Linked DNA regions of Homo sapiens. The protein of the gene in region 1 purifies or fractionates together with the protein of each later gene. This does not show direct contact. Each region holds a gene or a part of one and is shown in the gene's direction. Other genes may lie near its edges. The genes, in order: PCLAF, HARS1, TPR, RRBP1, ZC3HAV1L, PARG and CAST.

What was found.
Region 2: the proteins of PCLAF (region 1) and HARS1 fractionate together in Homo sapiens (co-fractionation; one large-scale study listed by BioGRID). This does not show direct contact.
Region 3: the proteins of PCLAF (region 1) and TPR purify together in Homo sapiens (affinity purification with mass spectrometry, with the first as the bait; one large-scale study listed by BioGRID). This does not show direct contact.
Region 4: the proteins of PCLAF (region 1) and RRBP1 purify together in Homo sapiens (affinity purification with mass spectrometry, with the first as the bait; one large-scale study listed by BioGRID). This does not show direct contact.
Region 5: the proteins of PCLAF (region 1) and ZC3HAV1L purify together in Homo sapiens (affinity purification with mass spectrometry, with the first as the bait; one large-scale study listed by BioGRID). This does not show direct contact.
Region 6: the proteins of PCLAF (region 1) and PARG purify together in Homo sapiens (affinity purification with mass spectrometry, with the first as the bait; one large-scale study listed by BioGRID). This does not show direct contact.
Region 7: the proteins of PCLAF (region 1) and CAST purify together in Homo sapiens (affinity purification with western blotting, with the first as the bait; one study listed by BioGRID). This does not show direct contact.

What each region holds. Positions count from the first base shown.
Region 1 is NC_000015.10:64,378,471-64,383,151, reverse strand, and holds the start of PCLAF (PCNA-associated factor), read left to right. Parts: upstream 1-1,710; 5' UTR 1,711-1,780; coding exon 1,781-1,826; intron 1,827-2,113; coding exon 2,114-2,194; intron 2,195-4,681. UniProt on the Homo sapiens protein: PCNA-binding protein that acts as a regulator of DNA repair during DNA replication.
Region 2 is NC_000005.10:140,677,790-140,681,746, reverse strand, and holds part of HARS1 (histidine--tRNA ligase, cytoplasmic), read left to right. Parts: intron 1-1,863; coding exon 1,864-1,959; intron 1,960-2,619; coding exon 2,620-2,745; intron 2,746-3,731; coding exon 3,732-3,839; intron 3,840-3,957. UniProt on the Homo sapiens protein: Catalyzes the ATP-dependent ligation of histidine to the 3'-end of its cognate tRNA, via the formation of an aminoacyl-adenylate intermediate (His-AMP). Plays a role in axon guidance.
Region 3 is NC_000001.11:186,329,906-186,333,862, reverse strand, and holds part of TPR (nucleoprotein TPR), read left to right. Parts: intron 1-468; coding exon 469-741; intron 742-1,519; coding exon 1,520-1,668; intron 1,669-2,281; coding exon 2,282-2,365; intron 2,366-3,957.
Region 4 is NC_000020.11:17,661,608-17,665,564, reverse strand, and holds part of RRBP1 (ribosome-binding protein 1), read left to right. Parts: intron 1-3,957. UniProt on the Homo sapiens protein: Acts as a ribosome receptor and mediates interaction between the ribosome and the endoplasmic reticulum membrane.
Region 5 is NC_000007.14:139,032,969-139,037,414, reverse strand, and holds the start of ZC3HAV1L (zinc finger CCCH-type antiviral protein 1-like), read left to right. Parts: upstream 1-1,372; 5' UTR 1,373-1,397; coding exon 1,398-1,762; intron 1,763-2,736; coding exon 2,737-2,872; intron 2,873-4,446.
Region 6 is NC_000010.11:49,921,316-49,925,272, reverse strand, and holds part of PARG (poly(ADP-ribose) glycohydrolase), read left to right. Parts: intron 1-2,603; coding exon 2,604-2,726; intron 2,727-2,853; coding exon 2,854-2,937; intron 2,938-3,957. UniProt on the Homo sapiens protein: Poly(ADP-ribose) glycohydrolase that degrades poly(ADP-ribose) by hydrolyzing the ribose-ribose bonds present in poly(ADP-ribose). PARG acts both as an endo- and exoglycosidase, releasing poly(ADP-ribose) of different length as well as ADP-ribose monomers.
Region 7 is NC_000005.10:96,660,871-96,665,551, forward strand, and holds the start of CAST (calpastatin), read left to right. Parts: upstream 1-1,505; 5' UTR 1,506-1,552; coding exon 1,553-1,627; intron 1,628-2,154; exon of another isoform or gene 2,155-2,266; coding exon of another isoform or gene 2,267-2,296; intron 2,297-4,681.

The sequences.
Region 1 (4,681 bases):
ATTCTGTTAAAGTACTGAGTAGCCTAATTCTAAGTTCGAGCAATTCATTGGAGAGAATTAATGCTGTGTTTACACTTCTAGAGTAGCCTTTCAAGTGAGCATTTAACAGAATACATCCCAAAGCAAGTTCATCTGATCCTGTTTTTTGTTGTTGTTTTTAGAGACGGAGACTCGCCCTGTCGCCCAGGCTGGAGTGCAGTAGCGTGATCTCGGCTCACTGCAACCTCCGCCTCCCGGGTTCAAGGAATTCTCCTGCCTCAGCCTCCAGAGTAGCTGGGACTACAGGCACATGCCGCCACTCCCAGCTAATTTTTTATTTTTTATTTTTATTTTTATTTTAGTAGAGACTGGGTTTCACCATGTTGCCCACGCTGGTCTCGAACTCCTGAGCTCAGGCAATCTGCCTGCCTCGGCCTCCCAAAGTGCTAGGATTACAGGTGTGAGCCACCATGCCTGACCGATTCTGTTTTATGTATGGTATTTAGAGAGTGAAAATCACTCCCCAGGGGTGTTGTGAGTAATTAGAAGGTAAGCATAAAGATAGAAAAAAATTATGACCCTTTATCCTAGAGTTATGCTCACTGTGTGACAGCGATGTGGTCTTACCACATTTGGCAGGGTCTTTTCGTTTCGTTTCGTTTCATTTCATTTCCTTGCCTTGCCTTGCCTTTCTTTTCTTTTTTCTTTTCTTTTCTTTCTTTCTTTTCTTTTCTTTCTTTCTTTCTTTTTTTTTTTTGAGACAGGATCTCGCTCTGTCGCCCAGGCTGGAGTGCATGGTGTGATTATGGCTCACTGCAACCTCTCCCTCCTAGGCACAAGCAATCTCCCGTCTCCTGAACTCAAGCCATCCTCCCACCTCAGCCTCCCGAGTAGTTGGGATTACAGGAACATGCCACTGCACCCGGCTAATTTTTGTATATTTTTTGTAGAGACGGGTTTCACCGTGTTGGTCAGGCTGGTCTCGACCTCCTGGGGTCAAGCGATCTGCCCGCCTCGGCCTCTCAAAGTGCTGGGATTACAGCCATGAGTCCCCGCTCCTGGCAGATTTGGCAGATTATTTAGGAGCTCTGACACCATTCGGTTCTCAAGAAGACGTTTTATTAGTTTCTTTTTATGTGTGTATGTATATACAATCCCCCTAGTTTTTGTTTAGTCTCACATCATCCTAAAGACATTTAAAAAAACCCTTGTAAACAAGTTGTATTAGCTTCCTTTTCCCCATTCCATAGAATTGTTTTAGTATGGATGCTGTACAAAGAGTTCATGCCTGGGGGACTAAAGGAAAGTTCTCAAGTTCTTTTAATTTTGATTTGCATCAAAAAGTCCGCTTAATTTCAGGTTTCACCTCCAGGAGTCAATCATTATGGACTTAAAGCTATAGTAACTTTTGAAGATCGTTTGTAATTCGCTGTCTTTGCTAGGTTTTCTTTTCTAAGCAGGCTCATTTCTGTAGTTCAGAAACTTAGCACCCACTAGTCGGGTACCCCTGGAGAGTCCTGGTACCGCCCACCTGGGGCGCCTACGAATCCTAGGCCTTTGCGTGTTGATGGACGGATTCGCGCTGCAAGAAGCCTCGCCGCTGTCACCACTGGGCATTGGCAATTGGTTCAGGGGGAACGGCGCGGAACCAATGGGAGCGGTGGCTCGGGAGAGACCTTGGAGCGCGCGGGAAAGAGACCAATATAAACTGTGGCGGGATAGTTTTCGGGTCCTTGTCCAGTGAAACACCCTCGGCTGGGAAGTCAGTTCGTTCTCTCCTCTCCTCTCTTCTTGTTTGAACATGGTGCGGACTAAAGCAGACAGTGTTCCAGGCACTTACAGAAAAGGTGAGGCGATCGAGTGTGGTACTGGAGGGCGGGGGGGTCCTCCCGGCAGCCTGGCCACGGGCGACAGACGCCAGAGGTCCCCCTGGGCCCTGTGCGCCAAACTCATCTAGCTAGCCAGGGAGTAGCCGCCTGGCCCCTTTACCTAGAAGAGGAAGTCGCAGGGGCAGGGTAAGGTTATCCTGCTGTTCTGGATCGCCAGGCTCTCCTCTCCAAGCTGCTGGGGTCCAGGACTCGGTGTCGGAACCCTCCTGCCCCTTCTGAACACCCTTTTTTGCCTCTCTTCACAGTGGTGGCTGCTCGAGCCCCCAGAAAGGTGCTTGGTTCTTCCACCTCTGCCACTAATTCGACATCAGTTTCATCGAGGAAAGGTAAGAAGAGCCCTCCTAAAGTTAGGGGATCAGTCCTGGCACCTGCAAGCCCCTGGCTTGCCATGAATTTCTTTTTCTTGAGGTACTCACGCCCGAATTTCTTCCTTGCCCTGTGATATAATAAGAGAGGCTGGGCCTTTTGGCCGGCTAGGGTAGAGGTGGGGGGGAGGTCTCATGGAAGGGAATTTCAAGCCTTGGAGTTAAGGACCGACACACCTTATCTTCAAGCCTATTTTTCTTTTCTTTTCTTTTTTTAGACAGGGCCTCTCTTTGTTGCTCAGGTTGGAGTGCAGTGGTGCAATCACTGGTCACTACATCCTCCACTTATGGGGCTTAAGCAATCCTCCCACCTCAGCCTCCAAAGTAGCTGGGGCTACAGGTACATGCCACCACGCCGGGCTTTTTTTTCTATTTTTTGTAGAGATGGGGGTCTCACTATGTTGCCTAAGCTGGTCTCAAACTCCTGGGCTCAAACAATCCTCCTACTGGGATTACAGGCATGAGCCACCACAGCCAGCCTATCAATTTTTGTTTTTTGGTTTAGTATTTTCCTTTTTCTTTCTCTTTCTTTTTTTGAGACAGAGTCTTGCACTGTTGCCCAGGCTGCAGTGCAACGGTGTGATCTTGGTTCACTGCAACCTCCGCCTCTCGGGTTCACACGATTCTCCTGCCTCTGCCTCCTGAGTAGCTGGGATTACAGGTGCACGCCACCACACCCAGCTAATTTTTTTGTATTTTTAGTAGAGATGGGGTTTCACTATGTTGGCCAGACTGATCTCAAACTCCTGACCTCATGATCTGCCTGCCTCAGCTTCCCAAAGTGATGGGAACACAGACGTGATCCACCACGCCCAGCTATTATTTTTCTTAATAATAACAGAGGCTATTTAAATATTGTTAGAGGCTATTTAAAAGCCCCCTTAGTAGATTAAGGGTTTGAACAATCGTTAACAGTGCTGAGTGCTCATTGCAATGTCTACTAAACTTTAATAAAAATGTTTTTGTTTTTGTTTGCTTGTTTTTCCTTTCTTCCTTACTCTTTTTTGTTTGTTTGTTTGTTTGAGTATGATGTCTGTGGGTTTTCTCCAACTTTGCAGCTCCTAATACTGTCTTTGGGAGAGTAGGAGTGAAACCCGGCAAAGGAAATAGCTTCACGCTGCTCCTTCTGTGCGTGGAGTAGATGAGAAAATGCCCTGCCATCTGGTGCCTCATTCCTTTCAGTAGGAAATTTGGCAGACAGGGAGATTAACGCTACAAGATTTAATTAAGAACATAAAGGTGAACACTGTTTAGGACTTCATGGGTTTTAAAGTCAATTCAAATTTCTCCCTATTATAAACATTTCATTAGAAAACATTTACTATTTCTATCTCTTCAGATAAAAGGAAATAGAAGTTGATGAATTTTTTTAGAGTAACTTATACCCTGTACCACTAGACTAAGTTTCTTTTTCTTTTCTTTTTTCTTTTTTTTTTTTGAGACAGGGTCTCACTCTGTTGCCCAGGCTTGAGTGCAGTGGTGCAATCACAGCTTACTGCAGATTTGACCCCAGGGTTCAAATGATCCTCCCACTTCAGGCTCTTCCCAAGTAGCTGGGACTGTAGGCGCATGCCACCACACGCCCGCCTAATTTTTGTGTTTTTTGTAGAGATGGGGTTTCATCACATTGCCCAGGCTGGTCTCGAACTCCTGGGCTGAAGCAATCCTCCCGCCTCAGCCTACCAAAGTGCTGGGATTACAGACGTGAGCCACCACGCCTGGCCTGATGAAATTTCATTAGAGCCGCATCTCATCGTCTGGTCCACTGTTGAATCACCAGAGCCAACTAAATAGGCCCTTACTGAATATATGTTGAATAAATGCATCCTTTAAGGCATTTTAAAAATCTCTATTTTTAATCCGAATAATTGGATGTATGAAATGGGTAATATCCTTATTTTAAAGATAAGGAAATTTAATATCTGGTTATATAACTTGATAAAGGTCACACAACTAAATCAGTGGAGTTGGGTTTGAACCTGTTGCTGCTATATTTTTTTTTTTTTCTGAGACACAGTCTCGCTCTGTCACCCAGGCTGGAGTGCAGTGGCATGAACTCGGCTCACTGCAACCTCCGCCTCCCGGGTTCAAGCAATTCTTCTGCCTCAGCCTCCTAAGTAGCTGGGATTACAGGCATGCGCCACCATGCCTGGCTAAATTTTGTATCTTTAGTGGAGGCAGGGTTTCACCATGTTGGCCAGGCTGTTCTCAAATGCCTGACCTCATGATCCAACTGCCTCGGCCTCACAAAGTGCTGGGATTACAGGCGTGAGCCACTGCGCCCAGCTGCTGCTGTATGTTTTCTAGTAGTAAAAGCATTCCTGTAAGGTTCCTTTGGGAAAACTGTGAACCAAAAGATCACTATCTTTTATATGCCATTCCTTCTTTTGGAGGCGAAGGCGGGACGGTTGCCTCAGCCAGGAGTTTGAGACCAGCCTGGACAACGTG
Region 2 (3,957 bases), on another chromosome or scaffold:
GCCATAAGGAAGGATCTGTTCCAGGCCTCTCTCCATGGCTTGTAGATGGCCATCATCTCCCTTTGTTTTTTTTTTAATTGAGACAGAGTCTCGCTCTGTTGCCTGGGCTGGAGTGCAGTGGCACCATCTCATCTCACTGCAACTCCACCTCCCAGGTTCAAGCGATTCTCCTGCCTCAGTCTCCTAAGTAGCTGGGATTACAACACGTGTGCCACCACACCTGGCTAATTTTTCTATTTTTAGTAGAGACGAGGTTTCACCATGTTGACCAGGTTGGTGGTCTTGAATTCCTGGCCTCCAGTGATTCGCCCACCCCAGCCTCCCAAAGTGCTGGAATTACAGGCATGAGCCACCGCGCCCAGCCTCCCTTTGTCTTTACATCGTCTTCCCTCTGTCCCTATCTAAATTTTCTCTTCTTACAACAACATATTGGATCAGAGCCCAACTTGGAGACCTCATGTTAGCTTAATCATCTCTTTAAAGACCCTATCACCAAATGTAGACATGTTCAGAGGTTACTGGGAGTTAGGACTTAAACAAATGAATTGGGGAGGGTGGGGCCAGGGGGACACAGTTCAGCCCGTAACACTAGTGTGTTACTGTTTCTGATACTGCATACTGGGAAGTTTCAGGCTTTTTAATCTTTGCCAACCTGGTAAGTGAAATATGCTATTACCGATGATAGACATCACAGGGCAAGGACTGCTGTAATGCCCTTAAGACATTCCCCAGTTTTTACTTTTGACATTATTCGAATCTCAGGCATCAAAAAACATTTATGTTTATTGGTCTGATAACCTATTCCTAGTAGTTTATCATCAAGAAAAATACTTTTTTTTAAAAAAAAAAAGAGCTATATACCTAAATATTAGATATTGAAATGTTATGGGGAATTTTTTTTTTTTTGAGACAGAGTTTCACTCTCGTCACCCAGGCTGGAGTGCAATGGTGCGATCTCTGCTCACTGCACCCTCTGCCTCCCGGGTTCAAGCGATTCTCCTGCCTAAGCCTCCGAATAGCTGGGATTAGATGCCTACCAGCTCCCCCAGCTAATTTTGTATTTTTAGTAGAGACAGGGTTTCACCATGTTGGCCAGGCTGGTCACGAACTCCTGACCTCAGGTGATCCATCCGCCTTGGCCTCCCAAAGTGCTGGGATTACAGGCGTGAGCCGCTATGCCTGGCCTAAAAAAATTTTTTTTTAAATTAGAATAACCTAAACACCTAACAGTATAACATGAGGGAGGAAGTAAGTACAGAGCTTCTTCTCACTGGAATTTATGCATCTTTTAAAAACACTTCAGGCCGGGCGCTGTGGCTCGCACTTGTAATCCCAGTACTTTGGGAGGCTGAAGCGGGCAGATCACGAGGTCAAGAGATCGAGACTATCCTGGCCAACATGGTGAAACCCTGTCTCTACTAAAAATACAAAACTTAGCCGGGCATGGTGGCACCCGCCTGTAGTCGCAGCCACTCTGGAGGCTGAGGCAGGAGAATCTCTTGAACCCCGGAGTCAGAGGTTGCAGTGAGCCGAGATCACGCCACTGCACTCCAGCCTGGTGACAGAGCGAGACTCCATTTCAAAAAAAAAAAACAAACTTCATGCTGAGAAGTCTGAAGAAAAAAAAGATTTTTAAGAGGAAAATGTGTAAGAAAAATACTTCAGCTCTGTTACAAAATCAAAATAGAAAAAAACACAAAATTGGTGTTTCCTTTTAATGATAACTACATCAGACACCTAAGAATTGGGATAAAGAGCAGAGGGAAATGTAGACAAGTTGGAATCAGTCATGTTTGTTTTCAAAACTTCCTTTTAAATTGTTATGTTTATTATTATGACCACATTTATTTATGTTTTCTCCAGGAAACACTGATGGGAAAGTATGGGGAAGACTCCAAGCTTATCTATGACCTGAAGGACCAGGGCGGGGAGCTCCTGTCCCTTCGCTATGACCTCACTGTATCTTTCTAAACTTGGGCTCTTGAGACTTTGGATGGATTGGCACTCACTTGGCTCAGGTTTAAGAATGGTAGAGTAGGTAGGATCAAATATGAGGCCTTTGGCGATTAGGGGAATTATTTCTCTAAACCAGGAGTGGAACTTTGGCTAAACAGAGCATACACATCCTTAGAAATCTTCTGAATCCTGAGTGAGACCTCAGCTTGATGTCAGGGCCCAGTTCCAACTCTACAGTCATCCCCTGGCTCCAGAATACCTCTCCCCTGCCCTGTCCAGTGAACAAAATTCTTCTTAATGGACTAGCAACACATTTCCCTTGTCTCCAAGCTACACAGAGAATCATCTGCTTAGAAATCCCATATGGGGGCCTTTTTCTGGTCGCCTTTTTCTGGTCTGTGGCCAACCTGCCCAGCCCCTTGCCATGCTCAAAAAAGTCCAGTCAACACTACAAAAGGGAAAGGTGCCTTAATCTTTTTTGAGCCTTCAGCTACCTCATGTGGTAGCACAGCTGATGCTTTCTGATGTTTGTAAGTGCTATTAATCTTATGGGTGGCAGTTTTACCCACATAGGGAGGGGTTAGACCCCAGCTTCTGTTGGTGATGATAATCAACTTGCAGACAGTGATAGGAGGGGCTTTCTCCTTAACTCTTTGTCATCAGGTTCCTTTTGCTCGGTATTTGGCAATGAATAAACTGACCAACATTAAACGCTACCACATAGCAAAGGTATATCGGCGGGATAACCCAGCCATGACCCGTGGCCGATACCGGGAATTCTACCAGTGTGTGAGTGTTGGGAAACCGTGGGGCAGGATGAGTTACTTGGGGCTCTCTCAAGCCAGCAGAATCTATTGAGTACTCACGGTGTCCTGAGCAAATTGGATGACCCAGATAATGCTCTTAGGGTTTCTATGGTGGTTTTTTTGTTTGTTTTTTGTTTTTTTGAGACGGAGTCTCGCTCTGTTGCCCAAGCTGGAGTGCAGTGGTGCAGTCTTGGCTCACTGCAACCTCTGCCTCCTGGGTTCAAACGATTCTTCTGCCTCAGCCACCTGAGTAGCTGGGATTACAGGCGCCTGCCACTATGCCCGGCTAATTTTTTGTATTTTTAGTAGAGACGGGGTTTTACCATGTTGGCCAGGCTGGTCTCGAACTCCTGGTCTCATGATCCGCCTGCCTCGGCCTCCCAAAGTGCTGGGATTACAGGCGTGAGCCACCGCACCCAGCCTCTTCTATGGTGTTTTCATGCAGATTTCACAAAATCCCTGTGGTGGGGGAGGAGAATAAAGTCTCTTCATTTTACATATGAGTAAACTTGATACCCAGCCCATGAAGAGATCATAGGGATAAGAAAGGCAAAGTCAGGACTAGAACTCTTGGTCCAGTGCTCTTTATTTTAAACCACAGTGATAGGATCACAGCAGAGAATAAGGAAATTAGCTTTGATACATCAAATCATCCAGACTGATGCCAGGGCTTCTGGATGAATAGGGAAAATGGCTAAGCACTAAAGCCATATAATCACCCCATCCAGTAGGAGGAGTTAAGAAGATGATGAAGTAGAAAATGAAGGAATAGCCCAGTAGATGGAAAGGAAACCAAAACTGGTGAGAAGCCCAAAGATGCCGGGGTTTACCTCTGGGCTGATGATCAGAAAATGAAAGAGAAATTCTATGCTTGAGTGCAACCAGGCCTTCCTAGAGGACAGAGCTCCCAGAGTCCCCCCTTCAGAAAGGTGAATCCCTGAAGACCGCTGGCTAACCCTCTCCCTGCAGGATTTTGACATTGCTGGGAACTTTGATCCCATGATCCCTGATGCAGAGTGCCTGAAGATCATGTGCGAGATCCTGAGTTCACTTCAGATAGGCGACTTCCTGGTCAAGGTCAGAGCTGACAAGGCTGGGAGGGCAAAGTTGGGCCTGGCCTCTCACAAGAGAAGATCCTTGTGCAGAGGGACCAGTAGCCTAAGTGACCATGACTATTGCAGGTCATGTAAGAAAA
Region 3 (3,957 bases), on another chromosome or scaffold:
TTCCTTAGATTCTTATCTTGACAAATGTTAGAATTCAGTAAATTATTCAAGTATTTCTGTGCTGTGAAAGTAGAGAATGTTTTATTTCAGCTACATCCAATAAACTAAATATATTACTAATCAAATTTACTATCTGTTATATCAATTAAAAACTAAATGATGCTTAATGAAAAATTCTAATTTTACTTTGAGCTTAATTTCATTAATTTTATTCAACAGTAATTTAAATGAATAGATGCAAAATCAGTTACAGATATTTATTTAATTCAGGCAACATTTTATTGCATGCTACCATATCAATTACATAGGGAATATAAAAATGCATAATACATTACCTTTACCTACAATGTATTTGTCTACCAAGTGCCAAATCTGTGTGAAAGGTGACATGTACCACAGAATAGGAAGGATAATTTCAGCTTTGATAAAAGTAGAAGGCTTATATTCAGCATTATAATTATTTTTCAGCTATGCAGTCAGAAGGGCCTGTGGAACATGTTCCAGTTTTTGGAAGCACAAGTGGATCCGTTCGTTCTACTAGTCCTAATGTCCAGCCTTCTATCTCTCAACCTATTTTAACTGTTCAGCAACAAACACAGGCTACAGCTTTTGTGCAACCCACTCAACAGAGTCATCCTCAGATTGAGCCTGCCAATCAAGAGTTATCTTCAAACATAGTAGAGGTTGTTCAGAGTTCACCAGTTGAGCGGCCTTCTACTTCCACAGCAGTATTTGGCACAGGTAAAATTAATTTTAAAATGAAGTCAGAGTAGACCTATGCATTTATAAGATCTTGAGTGTATCTTGAGTATATATATCTTGAGTATTCTTTGTACAAATGAAGTTAGAATAGACCTACGCAATTATAATATCTTGGATATAATACGTATCACAAGTATTCTTTGTGCATACATGCTTTCTACCAGGAATTAGAATGAATGAATATATTACTAACATTTTATTTCATGTTTACTACTGAATATGACTATTTTAAATCAGTTGTTTGTCATTAAGATGATTCTCCCCCTCCAGTTATTTTTTTTACTGGTCTTACATATTAATGCAAAACATTGTATATAATTTAACGGAAGTCCTGAGGACTAAAAGACACCTAAGATAAGACTATATACTGATTTACATACAGTGTACATTTTTTCTTATTCAAGGAGTCCTGAGTTTTATAGAAGGTCCCATGTAAACTTTGTAGATAACAACATAGTAATACAATCTCAGTGAACCAGATATATTGTAAAAATTGGCTGGCTTTATTAAGCAAAGCTTGGGTTGGTATAAAAACATTGACTCAGAGCATAAGTTGCTCTTTGTTTACCCATAGCTTAGCAGAAACAAATTATGTTGATGGACATTGATCTAGGAGTTGATTGATTGTATTTTAGTAATCTGTACAATTAAATGTTTACTGTGTTCTCCTTTAGTTAAGTGACCATATTGGGTAAACTATCTTTATCTAAATTGAGTTATTATCATGCTCTAATTCAAGATTTATATAATTTCAAAGTTTCGGCTACCCCCAGTTCTTCTTTGCCAAAGCGTACACGTGAAGAGGAAGAGGATAGCACCATAGAAGCATCAGACCAAGTCTCTGATGATACAGTGGAAATGCCTCTTCCAAAGAAGTTGAAAAGTGTCACACCTGTAGGAACTGAGGTGCGTAAAGTTCTTTCTGTGTATTTTAACTTTTACCAGTAGAGTTAAGGTACTCTTTTCAGCTACAGCCTAAAGAAAATTAACCTTTTGGGGCCAAAATATATTATCTGGAAAACACTTTTATTGAACTTTCTACAAAGATTCCACTGACAACCCAGGTATTATTACCAACAGTGTTTTATATTCTTGCATATCTTTAATTGCATTTGTTTCTATTTCAATAAAAAAGCTCAGTCATAAAAACATAAGTTGAATTTCATCTCGAAGTTTCTAAGTCTCATGGACATAAACTGTTACCTGCTATCTTTTTCTAAGATTAGCCAAAATTATATTCCTTTTTGTGGTTAAGATTAAATTGTAATGAAGCAGGTTTCAAATCAAACATTAAGGCTACTAAATTAATTGTATTAGCATGTATTAATGTTCATAAACCTTACTTTGTGTATACTGAGGAGGAATGTGATTATAATTTTTAAATAAAATTTTTTTATTTTTCTATAGTTTCATAAAATATAGATTTGAAGGGTTTTTTCAAATGAGAGAACTAACAAAAACAGGTAACCCTTCATCTACTACACTGATATGGTTAATATATTAGTGTATTATGATACAGGAAGAAGTTATGGCAGAAGAAAGTACTGATGGAGAGGTAGAGACTCAGGTATACAACCAGGATTCTCAAGATTCCATTGGAGAAGTAAGTAAAAACATACCTAAAGTACCACACCGTTGCTTTTCGTGAATGAAATTAGCTTTGACAAATTGAAACATTATTTGGTCTTTTTTTTTTTAGCTTGTTCTTATTATATGTAATGAAATACTACTAGAATTAATCATTGCAGAGTCTGCTTTCTTTTACTCCTATGAGTATAGTGTACTGCCTTCTAAACTTATATTAAAGAAATGTTTTTGTTCATATATAGCACAGATTTCCAGATTTTTTAGAGTTGTGAGCCAAGATTTTTCCCTATTTTAATTACATGAAATACAAGAGTGCTGGTTGCATCTTGAGTTAATTTATAGTGCCCCATTTGCTGGTTCTCTCTTACTCCCCTGTATTATTTCCCTTACAGAATTAAAGTAATCCATAAAAGGAAATGCATTTATATACCTCTTCATTTTTTGATCTCTCATTGAGGTTCCCCTAGCAGTTTTACTAGCGGAGAGAATATAGACCCTGAAGTTACAAAGCATGAGGTGTCATTCCTAGCTCCACCACTAGGAAGCTTTGTGACTGTAAGCATATCATTAATTCCCTGCATTGTCTCACTTGTCAAAAAATATAATTTTTAGGATTGTAAAATACCTAAAGTAGTACCTGCCACATATTAGGCACTCAGAATATTATTACTTTCCTTTCTTCCTTCTGTCCCACAAAATGAGAATTCATATTGTCATCAAGAAGACCCCCAGGGTGGCTAAATAGTGTTTAATAGAAAGGAGAGCTTTATTAGTGATATCATTTTGCTCATGAGGAAGAAATAGTCTCCAGCGTGGACCAAAGGTGTTCTGTCTTCACACAGGGCAGGGACAGGTGTGGTTTTATGCCTCACAGGGTCCTTATTACACAATAGAGTCATGCATATTCAGCAGGTTTTGGGGAAACGCTATACATATTTATGAGGGGAACTGAGCATATAAACAGTAGGTAAATATATATAATATACATCCCATGTTCACTTTGGGGCAGCGTTTTAGCATGAAAATGAGCTGGAATTTGGCTCTTTACGTGAAGAGTGAACAAAAGGTGAACTACAGGACACAAAGACAGTTTGTGCGCAGCCTCTTTAAGCAGGTTGAAACTAGCTTAAGGTGTCTGCAGTTCCTTGCCAGTGCTCTCTACAGTCAGAGTTGTAGTGGTCTGGATTGTAAATCAGAGATAGGAGTCTGATAACTTGCCCGATAGTTCCAGTTAGAGGAGTTTAGCAAAGGCTTATATTTTTTTATTGTAACCATATGAATTTAGAAATTTACCATGCCAGACAGGCCCTGAACCCTTGACCTACGGGTAACTTTTGTTTCCTTAACCTTAGGGTTTGTCTTAGTTGAGAAAATGGCATCTATTTTGGTCTCTCAAATCACAATGTATGATAGTAATTAAATATCAATATTTAACACAGAACTCATTACTATATGCCAAATGTTGATCTAAGAAATTTTTATTTATTAACTAATTTAATCTTCATTATACCTCATAGTTACAGAAACTGATACCCAGATAAAGTAGTGTACCGAAGTTCACATAGCATTGGAGCTCAGATTCAAACCCAGGCTGTGTAGTTTTCAACT
Region 4 (3,957 bases), on another chromosome or scaffold:
CCCGTCTCTACTAAAAACTACAAAAATTAGCTGGGCGTGGTGACACACGCCTGTAATCCCAGCTACTCGGGAGCCTGAGGCACAAGAATGGCTTGAACCTGAGAGGCAGAGGTTGCAGTGAGCCAGGATCATGCCACTGAGCTCCAGCCTGGGCAACAGAGAGAGACTTTGTCTCAAAAAAACAAAAAGAATAAACCAAAGCTATGTGTATCTATATGAATATTCTCACAAAGTTTAGTCAAAAAATGTTACCAAATAGCACCCAGAACAATGTCACTTACACAGCAATTACCAACACACAAAGTAACGGCTGTATTTTGTTGGTAGAGATAGATACATGTAATAGAAGCAAAAGCAGGTGGAAGTGGTAAGTGGCCCATTCAGGGTGTTGTCCCCCTCTAGAAGGGAGATGACATATATATACATATACACATGTGTGTGTGTCCCCCCCCCACATATATATGTATACACAGGCACATACATATATATATAAATAAATATCTAAAGTGCATATGGCAAAATGTTAGGGTTTGGTAAACCTGGGTGGTAGGCTAATGGATGTTCATATTTTTCTTTTTAGTCTTTTGTATGAGTCATTTCATAATATTTTAAAAATTAGGAGCTGTTGATTCTGATGTAGCCATGTCTGCTAGGGTCTCTGTTTTATTGTCATTCTGTTTTAGTTCTGTACCTTCCTAGCAGGTCACCTTATGCCCAGGAAATGGATCTGGGGGTTGGTTTTCTTTGTCCACCCCTACCCCACAGCTTCTCCAAGCTTCCACACACGGTCCCCCGTGGAGCTGCTGCTTAGTAATGAGACAGAGTCCTGGGAGCTGTTGAGGGTCTTTTCACAAAACCTACCAAAATCCCAGCTGCCAAATTGGACCCAACTGGCTTGGCCGGGCCATGTGAATTAGCAGATATCTTCTGTGTCTAAAGAGTTTGGGGCTTCCTCTTACTTTTGTTCCCCGAATCTTAAGAACAGAAGAAGAGCCATTCTCTCAAGATCTTAGAGGTGGGCCAGTGAGTTCAGTCTGTCCAGCCTCTGCGCAGCCTCCTACATCCTTCCCTCTTGGGGCCTTCATCTTTTTGTCTTACAGTCTGAGTATGTTAGCAATATCGTAGTCCCCCTTTATCTATGGTTTCACTCTTTGTGGTTTCAGTTACCAGCAGAAAGCTGTGGTCTGACAATATTAAATGGAAAATTTCAGAAAGAAACTCTTCCTGAGTTTTAAGTTGCATGCCATTCTGAGTAGCGTCTTGCCTGGGATGTGAACGATCCCGTGTGCAGTGGATTCACGCCGTCTGTGTTACCTGCCTGTGCGTCACTTGGTGGCCCTCTCAGCTTTCAGATCCACTGTCTGGTATCACAGTGCGTGTGTTTGAGTCACCCTTACTTTACTTAATCATGGCCCCAAAGTGCAAGAGTGGTGATGCTAGCATATGGTTATAATTGTTCTATTTTATTATTGTTAATCTCGTACTGTGGCTAATTTCTAAATTAAATTTCATCATAGGTATGTAGGTATAGGAAAAAAATAGTGTATATAGGATTCAGTATTACTGCAGTTTCAGACCCACTGGGGGTGTTGGGAAGTTTCCCAGAGGATAAGGGAGGACCACTGCAGGGAGTAAAAGTACGTATTTGACAGAAGTTTCTGGAATTGACAGAATATAGATCCCTGTGGTCAGACCCTACAAGGTATGGGTGGGCACACATCTGCCCTAACTCTGGTGCAGTGGAGGAAGCCCTAGAAGAGGTTTCTGTTGGGGGCCTCTTATCATGGTGTGGATTTCAGGAGCAAATCTCCCGGAATGCTGATTGTGAGAACCGAATTTGAGAGGCATCCCTGGCTTCATCATTTCTGTGAATCAGGGATCTCCCAGCATGATGTTTACGCCTCACTGAAGCTGACTCTGCAAAGCAGCAGAAAGGTTGTTTTTCATTTCGATTTCTTTGCTGTCCGTGGTGGTATTGCCTTAGCCTTAAATGTTTCAGTGTATTACTACTTAAGACTAGGGCTTTTCATTTTCTTGTGAAAGATTTCTTTTAAAAAATTCTAACTTGGGAATTAGTGGTGGGGATGTAATTTCTTTTTCTGCAAAAGTTGGGAAGACACATTTGTGCTGCTATAAAACATATATTTGTGTGCGTTGCAAAGGAAAAATATTCTCCCGAGTTTGTTTTTCTCGATTCTGGGTCCCAACAGAGAATATGTTTTTGTATTCTGTGTTTGCCTATGTTGAGTAAGATTAAAAGTTCATTTTCCAGCCTTGGCTTTTCTGCTGGAGTTTAGAAGTTGGAAACCACAAGGCTGCACAGAGCCCCACAGTCCTCGGCTGTGAACAGGCCCCGCTTTGTGCGTGGCTGTTCACTGTGTCACGGTCTGCAACCAGTGCCAATCGCGACTCGGTAAAGACCACCCCTCGAGCACATGGTTGTTGGGAAACGATTCGGGGTTTATGGAGCCTCAGTGAGGGTGACCCAGGCCCCTAATGTTCGTTTCTCTAGAGAAGGGGAGTGTTTTAGAGGATTTTTTATTTTTTTTTAAATAGAGATGGGGTCTCACTATGTTGCCTGGGTTGGCCTTGAACTCCAGAGCTCAAGCGATCCTCCCTCCTCAGCTTCCCAAGGTGCTAAGATCACAGGCTTGTACCACCATGCCTGGCCTTAGGATTTTTGAATGTAGTGATTATAATGTGGTGTCCATTTTGGCAGAGTTCTGAGAAATCTTGTAAGTACCCAGAGGAGTTTTGGTTGGTGGGTACCTGCCAAAAAGTGAGGGTTGACTGTACCATGTTCCAGACCTTCTTGTCCCCATCCTCCTACCCACTGAATCCATCCATGGCTGAGCAGGGTGCGATTTCCTTTTTAACACCCAGCTTGAGAGTGTGTTCTCGGAAGGCCAGTTCCTGGTATCCTCCCTCGATGATCAAACGTGAGAGTGCCCTGGCTGTGGATCACACTGTCACTGCCCACGGCCAGAGGTCAGAACCCATTTGGAAATATAAATGCTGCCTTACCCAGGATTCAAAGGCCTCCATGAGCTCCCCTAAGACTTTGTAGAGGTTAAGACTGGAATGAAAAGTGTGACTCAGTCTCGCTCAACGCCGAGTGACAGTGTGGGAGAAGTGTGTTGCCACAGCAGCTGATAGAGTTGTCCCCAGGGAGAGCATATGCTAGGAAGTTTCTTCGTCATGAGTGTTTTAAACCCTCTTCTTGTGAAGGTCTTAGAAAGGTCAAAGTAATGTGTTCCTTCTGTGATGAGAGTGATTTTTTTTTTTTTGAAAATTTTTTTTTTGAGACGGAGTCTCGCTCTGTCGCCCAGGCTAGAGTGCAGTGGCGCGATCTTGGCTCACTGCAAGCTCCACCTCCCAGGTTCATCCCATTCTCCTGCCTCAGCCTCCCGAGTAGCCTGGACTACAGGCACCCGCCGCCACGCCTGGCTAAGTTTTTTGTATTTTTAGTAGAGTCAGGGTTTCACCGTGTTAGCCAGGATGGTCTCGATCTCCTGACCTCGTGATCTGCCTGCCTTGGCCTCCCAAAGTGCTGGGATTACAGGCGTGAGCCACCGCGCCCGGCCGAGAGTGATTTTTCTTAGAACACAATGCCAAGACATTGAAAACAGTCTCCCTTCTCAGTCCCTTCTTTAAAATGCCCTCATGTCAAAATTTGGATTTGATTCCTACTCTGTTTCCTTCCTCTATAACCACTCAAGAGGAGTGGGGATCTCAATGTCTTAGGAGAAGAATCTCAGTATCTGAGCCACTAAGCAGCCTGGACCCAGTCTCCCACAGCATCTAGAGGTTTTGCAGGGCAATGCTGGGGGAGGCCTGTCCACTTCCCCTCCTCTCCTCTTCCACCTCCTTTTACCTCCCCTTAACCACCCCTTCTTACCCTTGTGTTCTCTTTGCTCATTCCATCGATCTTCTTTAGAGAGACTCGGGACTGGCTTG
Region 5 (4,446 bases), on another chromosome or scaffold:
TTGCTGAAGAGAAGACATTAAAGCTCAGAGCTGAATGACACACCTTGAGTGGCACTCAGGAGACATCCACACTTCCCAGATGAAAATCCTTTAGTGACTTCCCAAAGTTCTCGGGATATAAGTCCAAATTTCACAGCATGGCAGAGAAGGTCTTCTGGCATCTGGCCAGTTGTCTTCCTCTCTAGCTTCTTTACATTACATGACATTAATGCATTTAATCCTCACGAGCACCTTGCAAAATAGCAGCTAGGCTGGCTGAGTTCTCTGATGGTCTGATTCATCTTTGTACTGTCACTGCGTTAGTAGTTGGCTCAACAAACGTTCATGAAACAAGCAAGGTGTTGGACAAAAAGCATGGATGCTTAAGGCAGGTCTAGACTGGTGCTGCTCAACAAAAATAAGGTAATCCACATTTGCAATGTAAAATTTCCTCATAGCTACATTAGGAAAGTAGAAGCAACACATGAAGTTGTCATAACATTTTATTTATCCAAATATATCCAAAATATTATGTTTAACATGTGATTCATATAAAGTTAGTGAGATATTTTACATTCTTTTTCTCATTCTCAGTCCTCAAAATCTAGTGTGTGTATTTCACACTTATATCACATCTCAATTCGGACTAGCCACTTTCCAATAAAGCTCAGCAGGCCCCGCGGGGTGGCTCACGCCTGTAATTCCAGTGCTCTGGGAGGCTGAGGCAGGTGGATCGCTTGAGGAGTTCGAGACCAGCCTGGGCAACATGAGGAGACCCCGTTTCTACAAAGCAAAACAAAAACCAAAAAAATTAGTGATGCGAACCTTCGGTCTCAGCTACTCAGGAGGCTGAGGTGGGAGGATCGCTTGAGCCCAGGAGTTCCAGGCTGCAGCGAACTACGATAGCGCCACTGCACTCCAGCCTGGGCGATAACGTGAGGCCTTGTCTCCAAAAATAAAAATACAACAACAACAAAAAATCCCAGAAGTGCTCAGCAGCCACATGTGGCTAGTGGCCACCTCCCGCGAAGCAGCCCGGCCACTCACCTCCTACCACCTTTTACCTATTTCTCCTTCTCCGCAGGCCTCCCTAGCACTACCAGTTGTCTTGTTGGCGAGTCCTTTGTGACTCCCACTATACAAGCCCCTCAAGGCCAGGCTTCGCCCTGAACGGTGCCTGGGCGGAGCAGACGCTCCATCAACGCTGTCCCCGCCTGAGTCCACGTCCAGGGGATCCGCAGGCGCCGTACCCTGCTTCCACGCGCCGGGGCCGCCCCTCGCCCGGCCTCCCGCAGGCCCACCCCTCGCCAGGCCCAGGCCCATCCCCGGGCTGTTCGCTGGAAATCGTGGACGTGACTGGGAGGAGCCTGCCCGCCCCGGCTCGCTGCGCCGCGCGCACAGGGCCCGCGCCAGCGACCATGGCGGAGCCCACAGTGTGCTCCTTCCTCACCAAGGTGCTGTGCGCCCACGGCGGCCGCATGTTCCTGAAGGACCTGCGCGGCCACGTGGAGCTGTCGGAGGCCAGGCTCCGGGACGTGCTGCAGCGCGCCGGGCCCGAGCGTTTCCTGCTGCAGGAGGTGGAGACGCAGGAGGGCCTCGGGGACGCGGAGGCCGAGGCGGCGGCCGGCGCGGTGGGCGGTGGCGGCACCTCCGCCTGGAGGGTGGTGGCCGTGTCCTCTGTGCGCCTCTGCGCCCGCTACCAGCGCGGCGAGTGCCAGGCCTGCGACCAGCTGCACTTCTGCCGCCGGCACATGCTGGGCAAGTGCCCCAACCGGGACTGCTGGTGAGAAGGCGGCGGCGGGCGGGGACTGTGGGCGCTGGCCGCGGGCCTGGCCGTCCTGCTGGAAGCGGGAGCGACGGGAAGGGGGGCTTCGTCCTGCCCCGGGCCGGGGACGCGGGGCTGGACGACCCCCTCCCGCAGGCCTTTCCTGGGCGTCCTCCCCCGCGCTTCCAGCAGCTGGGCGGAAAGGCGCGAAGGTCCTCTCCATGGAGACGTCTCAACCGCCCACGCCAGAAAAGTTGCTGCCCCCGCCCGCCCCCCCGGATCCTGCGCGACGCGGCCGGGTTAAATCCGGACTGGGACTTCGGAGCTCACTTATTCTGGTGATATTTGGCGGGAGGTGGGGGGCGTGGGGCGTCTGAGGATCCCATGAGATCCCTGGACCCTTTAGCCGGAAATCGCTGCTCCCCCATATCCACACACTTGTGCAGAAGCGGGTCTGCGCCCTCTAGGTTTAACAGCGCTGAGCCAGTCTCACCCCAGGAAACAGGGCTGGATGGCTTGGGTGAGGCCCTGTGGTTCCTGACTGCCAGAGCTGGGGTTCGGGGCTGCCTCCTGACCCCAGGCTGTGCTTCACAGCCCCGAATTTTCCTTGGTTGTCTCTAGCCACACACCCCGCCAAAGCGGTGCTGGGGATAGGGGCGCTTTCTTTTTAACGTTGGTGGACTGTGGCAGCTGTTGCCGGGGAGAAGGCCAGGTGCAGTCGCCTACGGAACAGATGTGCATCCTCAGGCGAGGTGGGCGACCCTTGGCTTCAAAGCATCCCTACTGAAAATTCAAATGACCCTGGGAGAGGAGTTCCTTCAACCCAATTTTCTTATTTTCCATCAGTGCTTATTAGGCCATACTATCCCCGGTTTCATGAAAATTACTCAACTTCACATGTATTAAATACATTGAAAGCTGCTCAAGGCAAGGAATTGGACAGACTGGTCCTTCTTCACCTGGGCATCTGACCGAGGGCTTTGTTCTTTTAGGTCTACCTGTACCCTTTCCCATGATATCCACACACCTGTCAACATGCAGGTCCTGAAAAGCCATGGACTTTTTGGTCTCAATGAAAACCAGCTTCGGATCCTGCTTTTGCAGAATGACCCCTGTCTTTTACCAGAGGTGAGTCACCAAGGAGTCACCCTCATGTCACATTTGCTACAAGTACTTTCCCCATTTATTTTTCTTTTGGCTTTACATATTAATTTTAATTGCCTTCGAAGCAACATGATTCAGTTTCAAATGCTTTAAAGGTACCCTTTATAATTGCTATCATGGCGAAATAGTACGTTTGTTTCAGTTTAGCCATACACAAAGAAGTTTTAAAAACAAAATAGTACAAATCCCAAGAGAAAATTGGAACATCAATTAAGACCACCAATTAAAAGCAAGATTTTCTAATCTAGCACAGTGATGCTATCATAGACACCTCCACTTGGCCAGAAGAGGGATGGGAAGAAGGGGAGATGTTGAGAAAACAGAGGATAGTTCATAATTGTGGCCTGATTTTAACTCTAATGCATTTCAGCGTCTAGAAAGGAAGATAGCCACAAGACTAGAGGTAGGAGCTGGAGCCTTTGGTGCAGGTGGCAGAGGCTGCTCTCAAGGCAGCAGAATCTGTACCCAGAAGGCAGTCCTGGAGTTGATCTCAGGAACAAGCAGGTTTCTTCCTGACATGCATAACCTGTTTCATTTCTTCGAGCACTGAAGCCAAGTCTGGTATGTCACGGTTGTGAGCCAGAGGCATTCCAACCAACCATGTTGCCCAAAGTAGATGCAAGCAGTAGCTGAAGCAGGTTATTGGCAGGAAGGGAGAGGAGGGTGGCTGCACCTATGAGGCTGGGTCCAGTCCTTCCTGTCTCAGAGAGAAGGCGTGGTGCCGCTGCTATTTGCCTTTTAATTTTATAGTACTTTTTGATTTATAGAAGTTTAGTGTTTTTATTTTGTCAAATCTATCGAATGTTTTTTTGGTATGCCCTTTTTTAGGATGTATCTTGGGCCCAGCCTCACCTTGTCATATTAGACTACTTCAGTGTTTTGTGAGCAGCTGATGGGTTGGCTGCACTTACAACAGGAGCCTCCCCTGTGCCTCCACTTGTCCCCATCACCTGGGACTGGAAGTAGGTGACATGTGGCACAAAACGTGATCATGTGGGCAGCAGGGACTGTGGAAAAACACAGTGCATGAGGCAAGAATGGTGCCTCACATCTCTTGTATGAAATGCCTGATGATTGCTTTTACCACTCTCTCAATAAAAAAGACAATAGACAGGTAAAGTTTCATGCTGGTGCATTGATGGACAAATTTCTAGAAAAATACAGCTTGTCAAAATGGATTCAAGAAGAAACGGAAAGCCAAAATAGTGTCATAAAAATTTTTAAAATAAAAGCATTAAACAAACCTCAAAGCATTAGTTAGAAGGCTTGCACAAGAAAACATCAGACTTATATAGTTTTTTTTTTTTTGAGACAGGGTCTTACTCTCTCACACAGGCTGGAAGTACCTCGGCTCACTGTAGCCTCTGCCTCCTGAGTTCAAGTGATTCTCCCACCTCAGTCTCCTGAATAGTTGGGACTACAGGCACGTGCCACCATGCCCAGCTAATTTTTGTACTTTTTGGTAGAGATAGCGTTTCACCATGTTGGCCGGGCTGGTCTTATATGCCTGACCTCAAGTGATCCCTCTGCCTCAGCCT
Region 6 (3,957 bases), on another chromosome or scaffold:
CTCTTACCAGATGCTTCATTACTTCTCTCCTGGACTGGATCAGGGAAGACCTGGAAAGGGAAGGGGATTCTCTACAGCAGCAGTCCCCAACTTTTTGGCACCGGGGACCAGTTTTATGGAAGACCATTTTTCCATGGGTTGGGGGATGGTTTCAGAATGAAACTGTTCCACCTCAGATCATCAGGCATTTGTTAGATTCTCATAAGGAGTGTGCAACTTAGATCCCTCCCATGCACAGTTCATAATAGGGTTCTTCGTCTTATGAGAATCTGATGTTGCCACTGACCTGACAGAAGGCAGAGCTCAGCCTTGCTCACCTCCTGCTATGCAGCCTGGTTCCTAACAGGCCATAGACCCCTAGTCCATGCCTGTCTGGATTCCGGGGGGTTGGGGACCCTTGCTCTACACAATGTAGATTTTACCCACAAGACACAGTTTAGCAGGGCCATTTCAAAATATTTCAAATAAATACATTTTGGGGTAAAATACTTCCGTTTCTTTCAGAGCTTGGTATCTGTCATGTTGGTATCTTAATTGCTATAAAGAGTCTGCCTTGTCAGTCTTAAAGTACCTGTTTTAATGTTAATGCTGGTCAGTCACATCTAAATTTCAAAGGGAGGAAGGTATAATGAAGCATGTCCAACCACCCGTTCCCATCATGGCCTGAACTAGTGTATGGGGTTTGCTTTAGAATGCCCTTGGCTGAGGGAGGGGCCCATTCAGTTGGTTGCGGGGCTTAGAATTTTATTTTTGTTTCACCCTTTTCCTTGTTAATTTTTTAGCCTTTAGAGTTAAGCTCAGTTGCCACTTCCTCAAGGAAGCCTTACCTAAGTTTACCAGATAAACTAAATCTGAGCTGGTCTCATAACACAGTGTTCCTCGTATTCATAACATATTACAAGTGAAATTATATATTTATGTGATTATGCTCTGCAGTGAAGTACTCATACATACTACCACATGGATTAATCTTGAAAACATTATGCTAAGTGAAAAAGGCCAGACACAAAAGGCCACATATTATATGATTTCTTTTATATGAAATATCCAGAATAGGCATAATGTTAAACTTTAAACCATAATCTCTTTCTCTTACCAGTGGCAAATCTATATGGGTCTGCAGCAATGTTAATACTCCTCCTTAGAAGAAAGGATTTGATTGAGAGGCATAAGGCAGAATGAGAGACCAAGGCAAGTTTTAGAGCAGGAGTGAAAGTTCATTAAAAAGCTTTAGAGCAGGAATGAAAGGAAGTAAAGTACACTTGGAAGAGGGCCAAGCGGGCGACTTGAGAGATCAAGTACACAGTTTGACCTTTGACTTGAGGTTTTATATGTTGGCATGCTTCCAGGGGGTTGTGTCCCCTTCTCCCCTGATTCTTCCCTTGAGATGGGCTGTCTGCATGCGCGGTGTGATTACTGGAGTTGTACATATGCTTGCTTGAGGTATTCTTCCCTTACCAGTTGAGTGTTCTTATAAGGTCATATACCAGTTAAACTTTGCCATTTTGCTCCCTAGTACACATGCTGGAGCTGACTTGCCCAACTCCTAAGATCTTAACAGGAAGCTGCTGATCACCAATTTCAGATTTTTCTATCTATTGGGTGACTCCTTTCCCTGGCGCCGGCTGCTTCCAATTATTTTACAGAGGCAGTTTCACAACTCCCTGTGCATCACTTGAGGGTTGTCTGACATTCCTGGTAGTGGTAGGGGCCCTGTCCTGCCCTGCTCATGTCTGACTGGCTACCTACTGTACCACTTCCTCAAACATTTACTTAATAGTTATTATAGTAGCATATGTGTGTATATATATATTTGCATGTGTACACGTACACATGTACACATACCAGGTTCTATCTTACATATTCAGAATACAAAGTTAATATGGTTATTTTCAGGAAGTTTGGGATCTAGTGAGGGAGAGGAAGACAAGTGTGCTCTAGCATGATAATAATCTAACAAAACAAGATAAATAGCTGACTACTTTGAAGTTTCTAAAGACTTCATAAAGATAATGAAAATCTGGCAGAGCTATGAAGGTGACAATAGAGATTTAACCAGATACAGTGGGGGAGGTGGCAATTGGTAGTAGTGGTATTAAAAAGAGAGGCCACAGTAGTATGTATACAGGCATATAAATATGAAAATGAATTTGCTATGTTTAAGGAATTTTAAGTGTTGTTTAAGATTTGTTTGGAATGAATGGTGTTTTGATAAGAACGTATATGAAAATCAGGATGACACTTAGAATCAGAGTATAGGCGTTATAGCATTAGAAGCCTGGGAGTTCTTTAGAAAGGGTTTTATGGGGGCTAGATGTGTCTAGCAACAGCTGGAGTTAGGGAGAAGGATAGGAAACACTTAGTAAAAGCTGAGGCAAGGAAGGATTCCTAGGGGATATGGAGCTAGAATATATACTATATCTGGTGACTTGGACCTGGTTGAATGGAGGTGAGGAATGGGAAGAACTGAAGGGTTCTTTGGTGATTTCTTGCCTGGGAGCTGGTCTCTATTTTATAGCATTTGCTTTGGTTACTTAGGATTATTTTATAGAAGATACATTTTGTTTTTATGCACTGACAATTTTGTTTACCCTCAATTTCAGGTAGATCTTTTGCGAGCAGGAGAAGTTCCTAAACCTTTTCCAACACATTATAAAGATTTGTGGGATAACAAGCATGTTAAAATGCCTTGTTCAGAACAAAATTTGTACCCAGTGGAAGATGAGGTAAGAACAAAACCGAGATTCTTTTAGTCTCTGAAAAATGGTTTGGTACTTGCTTGTTTGACCTTTGATTCTGTGATGCAAAACAACTTAGAATAGCTTCCTCATATGTTTTTCTTTTTTCCAAAAGAATGGTGAGCGAACTGCGGGGAGCCGGTGGGAGCTCATTCAGACTGCACTTCTCAACAAATTTACACGACCCCAAAACTTGAAGGTATGTTGTTTTTACCATGCTTGCCTGTTTATGGGCCCTGTGTCTCCTCTTTCAAAGACTTTTTGGTCTTAATAGACTCAGGTAGCAACATTGTTTAGATGCAAAATGCTTGCTTCCTGGCACTAAGGAAGGCCCCTTAGAGACATTCTACTAGGAAATGAGAAGAACTGAGAGTTGCAAATGCCTTGCCTGGAGCCACACAGAATAATTTGGAGAACCAGGAATAATACCTCTGTTTCTTGATTCCCCATCCAATTTCCTTCAGTGCAAGCTTCTCTTTCTTTTTTTTGTTTTAAAATTATCATGTTTCTGAAATATCTTTAAAAGTAAATCAGGAAAGAATTATGACTTCAGCAATATTTGCCCAAAGGGAAGCTGAGTTTCCCAATGATTAAAGTATATGTTAAGCATTCTGGTTTTTATTGCCCTTAATATAGCTCCTAGCAGTTTAATAATTTATTAATCTTATATTTTGGCAATAATTTATTTTTGATATATTTATATTTCATTTATGACTGCAAGGGTAACTAGTAGATTGTTTTTCTAATATCTAAAATATGAGTGAGAGTGTGTGTGTATATATATATATTTATATTTGGGGGCACTATAGCCATGAAAACTTTTCATGTTTTTATAAATATAAACAGTGACAGAATTTTTTATACTTCTATGAAAATGAGTTTTATTTTCTTTCAGAGACTTAATTTGTTGTATATAGTTTCTCAGCTTTCTTAATGTTTTCTACTGATACTTGCAAGTTATTGTTAAACTTTCTATACCTTTCTGTAGCTCCTGTTTTTTTTCTTTACATGGAAAACATTGATATGTTATATCATAATGTATTTTGAAGGCTTTATTCCTTGGGGACAGTGTTTCTCAATCTTCTAATGGGCTCTTTTTTTAAAAAAAGAAAAGAAAAGCAGACTGTTTATTTTTCTTTTTTACAGTACAAATTGATTTATTTAAAACAGTTACAAAAAAACAAAACAAAATAGAGATTATCATTAGAATTATTAATGG
Region 7 (4,681 bases), on another chromosome or scaffold:
TCATTTTTATGTATAAATTCCTGCAGTGCTACCTGTTTGTTGAAATACTAGATACACAGACAGTAAGTACGACACTTTAAGAGGAAATGCATTTAAATCCTCTTCTCCCCGCATCCCCTCCCTCAAAATTAAGAATGCTGCTAGCCTATCCTTTGAAGAAGAAGTCAGAATTCCTAAAATGAGGAGGTACAAAGGAAACCAGAATTCTGTTCTGCCAGGCTCCATATAGCATGACAAATCTCTCCTTAAAATCTGCCTTCTGGCCGGCTGTAGTGGCTCACGCCTGTAATCCTAGCACTTTGGGAGGCAGCACTGGGCAGATCACTTGAGGTCAGGTGTTGTTCGAGACCAGTCTGACCAACGTGGTGAAACCCCGTCTCTACCATTAAAAAAAAAAAAAAAAAAAAAAAGCTGGGTGTGACAACGCGCCTGTAGTCCCAAGTACTTAGGAGACTGAGGCAGGAGAATCGCTTGAACCTGGGAGGCGGAGATTGCAGCGAGCAGAGATCGCGCCACTGCACTCCAGACAGAGCGAAACTGCCTCTCCAGAAAAAAAAAAAAAAAAAAAAAAAAGGCTCTGCCTTCTCTCTCTTCAACTGTCTAAACCCCAACGCTGCAGAAAGCGGTGACCCCAAGTCCCAGAATGATGATGCTACTGCAGGGTAACAAACAGGTTTTCTGTCAGGCCTGATTGTGAACCAGCAGCAACTGCAGGCTGACAGTTTCTCACATAAGCACGTAGGGCTTGTTAAATTTCACTTCCAGCCCCAAACCAGGAAGCGCTGTTTAAGATGAGCCCAAGAAGAAAGCAATCTAGCTTCAGAAACAAAACTCGCCAGACTCTAGAAAGACTATAAGGGTTTAAATTTGGGACTGTTCTCCGTTTTGCATTGGAACCTATGTTCTCCTCCCCATAAAAGTTTATTAAAATTCGAAACTGCCAAAAAACAAAGTAAAATCATATAAAACATACACAGGCGCGTGCACGCACGCACACACACACAGACCAATTTGTTTTTGTGATCCGCTTCCTTATCTAGACTGTCCAGGCTTGGGCCAGATTTGAGTTGGTAAACTCTCGCAGCTAAAGCGGAGCAGAATGTAGAAAGAGTATCTACTTCTCCGGATTGTTGGGAGGAGGGTCGAAGCGTAGACTGGCCACGCCCGGGTCCCGCTCTCTCGTTGCACAACTGCAAGCTAGATCTGGGCATCGAAGGAGGAACGCTGCAACCTCCAACCCCTTCTTTCTGACCAACCGGGACCAGAGCAGTGCTGGGGCCGGGGCGGGTCACCGGGTGAGGACCGGGGCGGAGGGTGTTAAGTTACAGGGCAGGAGCCCGGGTCCCTCCGCGGGCAGGAAGGGGAGGGCCCATCGGGGCTAGGGGAACCCCGGCGCAGACCTGGGGTGGGGTCGGAAAAGCTGTTTCATCGCCCGCTCCCGGGCCCTCCGCTCCCTCCCTCCCTCCCTCTCTCCCTGGCAGGACTCCCCGCCAGGCCTCCCCGCCACTCTCCGCGGCGCATTCCGGGAGGCAGCGGCCGCAGCGGCCTCGCCATGTCCCAGCCCGGCCAGAAGCCCGCCGCCTCCCCGCGGCCCCGGCGAGCAGCCGCCGCCCGCCGCACCCATGAGGTGAGTGGCGCTCCTGTCGGCGTCGCGGGGCTGGGCGATGGGGTACCGGGTCCCGGAGCTGTGGCCGCCCTCCCTGGGCGTTGCCAGGCTGGCGGGTCTGCAGTCCCCGGCGCCCCCGCGGGGCAGGGAGAGGGCTAGGGGCTTGGCCGCTGCCAGGCAGGTGGCTGCAGGTGGCTTCGGTTCCCCGGCCGGGTCCAGTGCGCTGGGCGTGGCGTTGGCCGGGTAGAGTGGAGGGGGGGACGCGTCAAGAAAAGTTGGCTGGTAAGACGTGGGTGAATGAGGATGAGGATGAACGGGGAATGAGGTTCACTCAGGACCCCCGAGTGAGTGGGGTGGTTTCACTGGACAGCGGGATGTAGTCTTCCGCGCTAAGGCCGGGCCGCAGGGCGTGGCTGCCTGGAGACGCAGAGCCTCTTCCCTAACCAGCCTCGAGCCAAATTGGGCGGGCGAGGAGGGGCGGGGCCTGCGCCGGGCCCCACCCCCAGGGTTCTGCCCACCTGGCAGCCGCCTTGGGATGTGCGGAGCTCAGTGCCAGCCCGGTCCCGGCCAAGCGGAGTGTGAGCCCGGCGCCTCCAACGCAACACCCCGCGCCCTCGCCGGCTCCCCCGCCGTGCGGATCGGAGCCAGCCGGTTGTTGCCATGGCATTCGCCAGCTGGTGGTACAAGACGGTAAATAGGAGCGGTTGTGCCTGGGCAGGACCCGGAAGGGAGTGTGTTGGAAGGGAGTGTGTTTGCTTTGCCCTTCTGGGCGTGCGGATGAAGCGTTGTCCGGGGTTTGGCGGGGAAGGGGTGCGGACCGGGTGCGACCTCCTCGCAGACCTTCAGGTTAGGCTCGGGGAGAGGCAGGGGACTCACCCTCTTGTGGTATGTATGAGCGCGCCCGAGCGTGCGCGGCGCATGCACCTCTCTCGCCCCGATGTCAAGCACTATGCTCTGCTGGCGCTCACAAGTGGGATGGAACTGGAATTGTTGCTGGAGGAATTCTGTCTAGGAGGTGGATTCCTGAATGCACTAGGACGCAGCTCGCAAGAGCTTTGATCTAGAGTTCTTTTTTAACCCCTAAGTAAAGTTCAAAACTTTTAGAGGGCGATTGTTGGACGTACATTCGCCGACGCAAAGGAGAGGCAGCTGCAATGTGAGGCAAGGAGAAAATCCCAAACATCAAGGGGCAGAAGCAACTGAGATCTGAGACCAAGACCCTTGGAGAGAGCGGTGGAGGGGTGGAGGAAAGAAAGCGAGAAAGTGAGAGAGGGAGGGAGAGAGAGACAGCGCGCACAAAAGCGAGCTTCTCTGCACTTTATTACTTTGGATGAGGGACAAGAACATTCCATTTGTTTGGTGCATTGAATGTTTGTCCTGCCAATTAGGTGTAATATCCAGTCAAGCTGGCACTTCTAGTGTTTTGGAACCAGGAAGCATGATTTAACATTAGATTGCTTTCCAAAAAAAAAAAAAAAAATCACACACAGGAGTTTTGTTGACAGTGAGAGCCAAAATGTTTATGTCTCATTGATTTATGGTGAGAATTAAAAAATTAGGTATGTCTTTTTCTCTCTTGGCATGTGGTATTGGAAAAAGCAAAGATGTTGGAATCAGACATTCTTTGGAGCTAGCTACCCTGTATAAGAATCAAGAAAGAAACTGTTACTTATCAGACAATGGACATTTATTGATCATCTATTATGTGCCAGGCAGAATTATATCCCACAAGTAGTGTTTTTTTTTAGATTATTTTTTATTCTCCGTTTCTATATAAATAGTATATATGTATAGTGTGTATGTGTGTATATTTACAGTGTGTGTGCATATATATATTTACACATATATGTAAATATATGTGTGTGCATATATATGTAAATATATGTGTGTGTGCATATATATGTGTGTGCATATATATGTGTAAATATATATATATATGCACACACACACACACATACAATATACTGTACAGGGTCTCTCTCACTATGTTGCCCAGGCTAGTCTAAAACTCCTGGTCTCAAGCAATCCTCCCACCTCAGCCTCCCAAAATGTTGGATTACAGGCATGAGCCACTGCACTGGGCCTACAGGTGCTTTTTAAAGCCTCCATGTACACTGTGGAGAACAAAGAGTTTTTCTCAAATGGAAATAAGTCAACCTTTTCAACCTGTTTTCACATGTGTAAAATAGAAATTATATGCACTACATAAGTATTGGTGAGGACTAATTAGATTTAAAAGTCAAAATGTCATACACATATACTTTTAAGAATTTGGAATTCCAATTTCCCTTGAGATACTTCTTCATGAATGTTTTCCAGTACATTTCCTGGGCTTTTACATGTAGCATTTGATTGATGTGGTAAGAACAAACCACATCAATTTGCTTTGAGTCATTATTGGCCTAAGGTTCTTATCAAAATGTACCATGTACCTTATCTGCAAATATGGATAGCAGTAGTTCAGAGTTGACATCAAAATTCTCCTTCCAGACTCATGATTCTCTCAAGGAAACTCTGCTGGGTTACTTGGATGAAAGTAGTTTGAATCTATGCTTTTAACCCTGTTTTGTTTAGTCACAGTCTGATGTTTTTGCTAAAACCTCTCTTAGAATCCCATTTTGGTACTACCATGAAAACTTTTTGCTAGTAGGAACTTCCTAGAACCAGCTACATGCCTGTGATCAAGCTTTAGCTTTGCCCAAACCAGTGCTATTCAATAGAAACATAATGTGAGCCACGTCTGCAATTTCAGATTTCCAAGGAGCCACTTTAACAACAACATCACAACAAAAAGCAGGTGAAATTTGTGCTAATTGATATATTTTACTTAACCTACTATATCCCACATATTATTATTTCATCATGTAATCAGTGTATAAGCCATTGAGATATTTTACATTCTTTTTTATACTAATTCTTCAAAATCCAATGTATATTTACATTAACAGCACATCTCAATTCACACTTGCCACATTTCAAGAGTGTTCAGTAGCCACAAGCAGCTAGGGGCTATAGTAATGGACAGTATAGCGCTAGACCATGGACTCCTAAACTTTCTTTTTTTCCTTTGGTGAT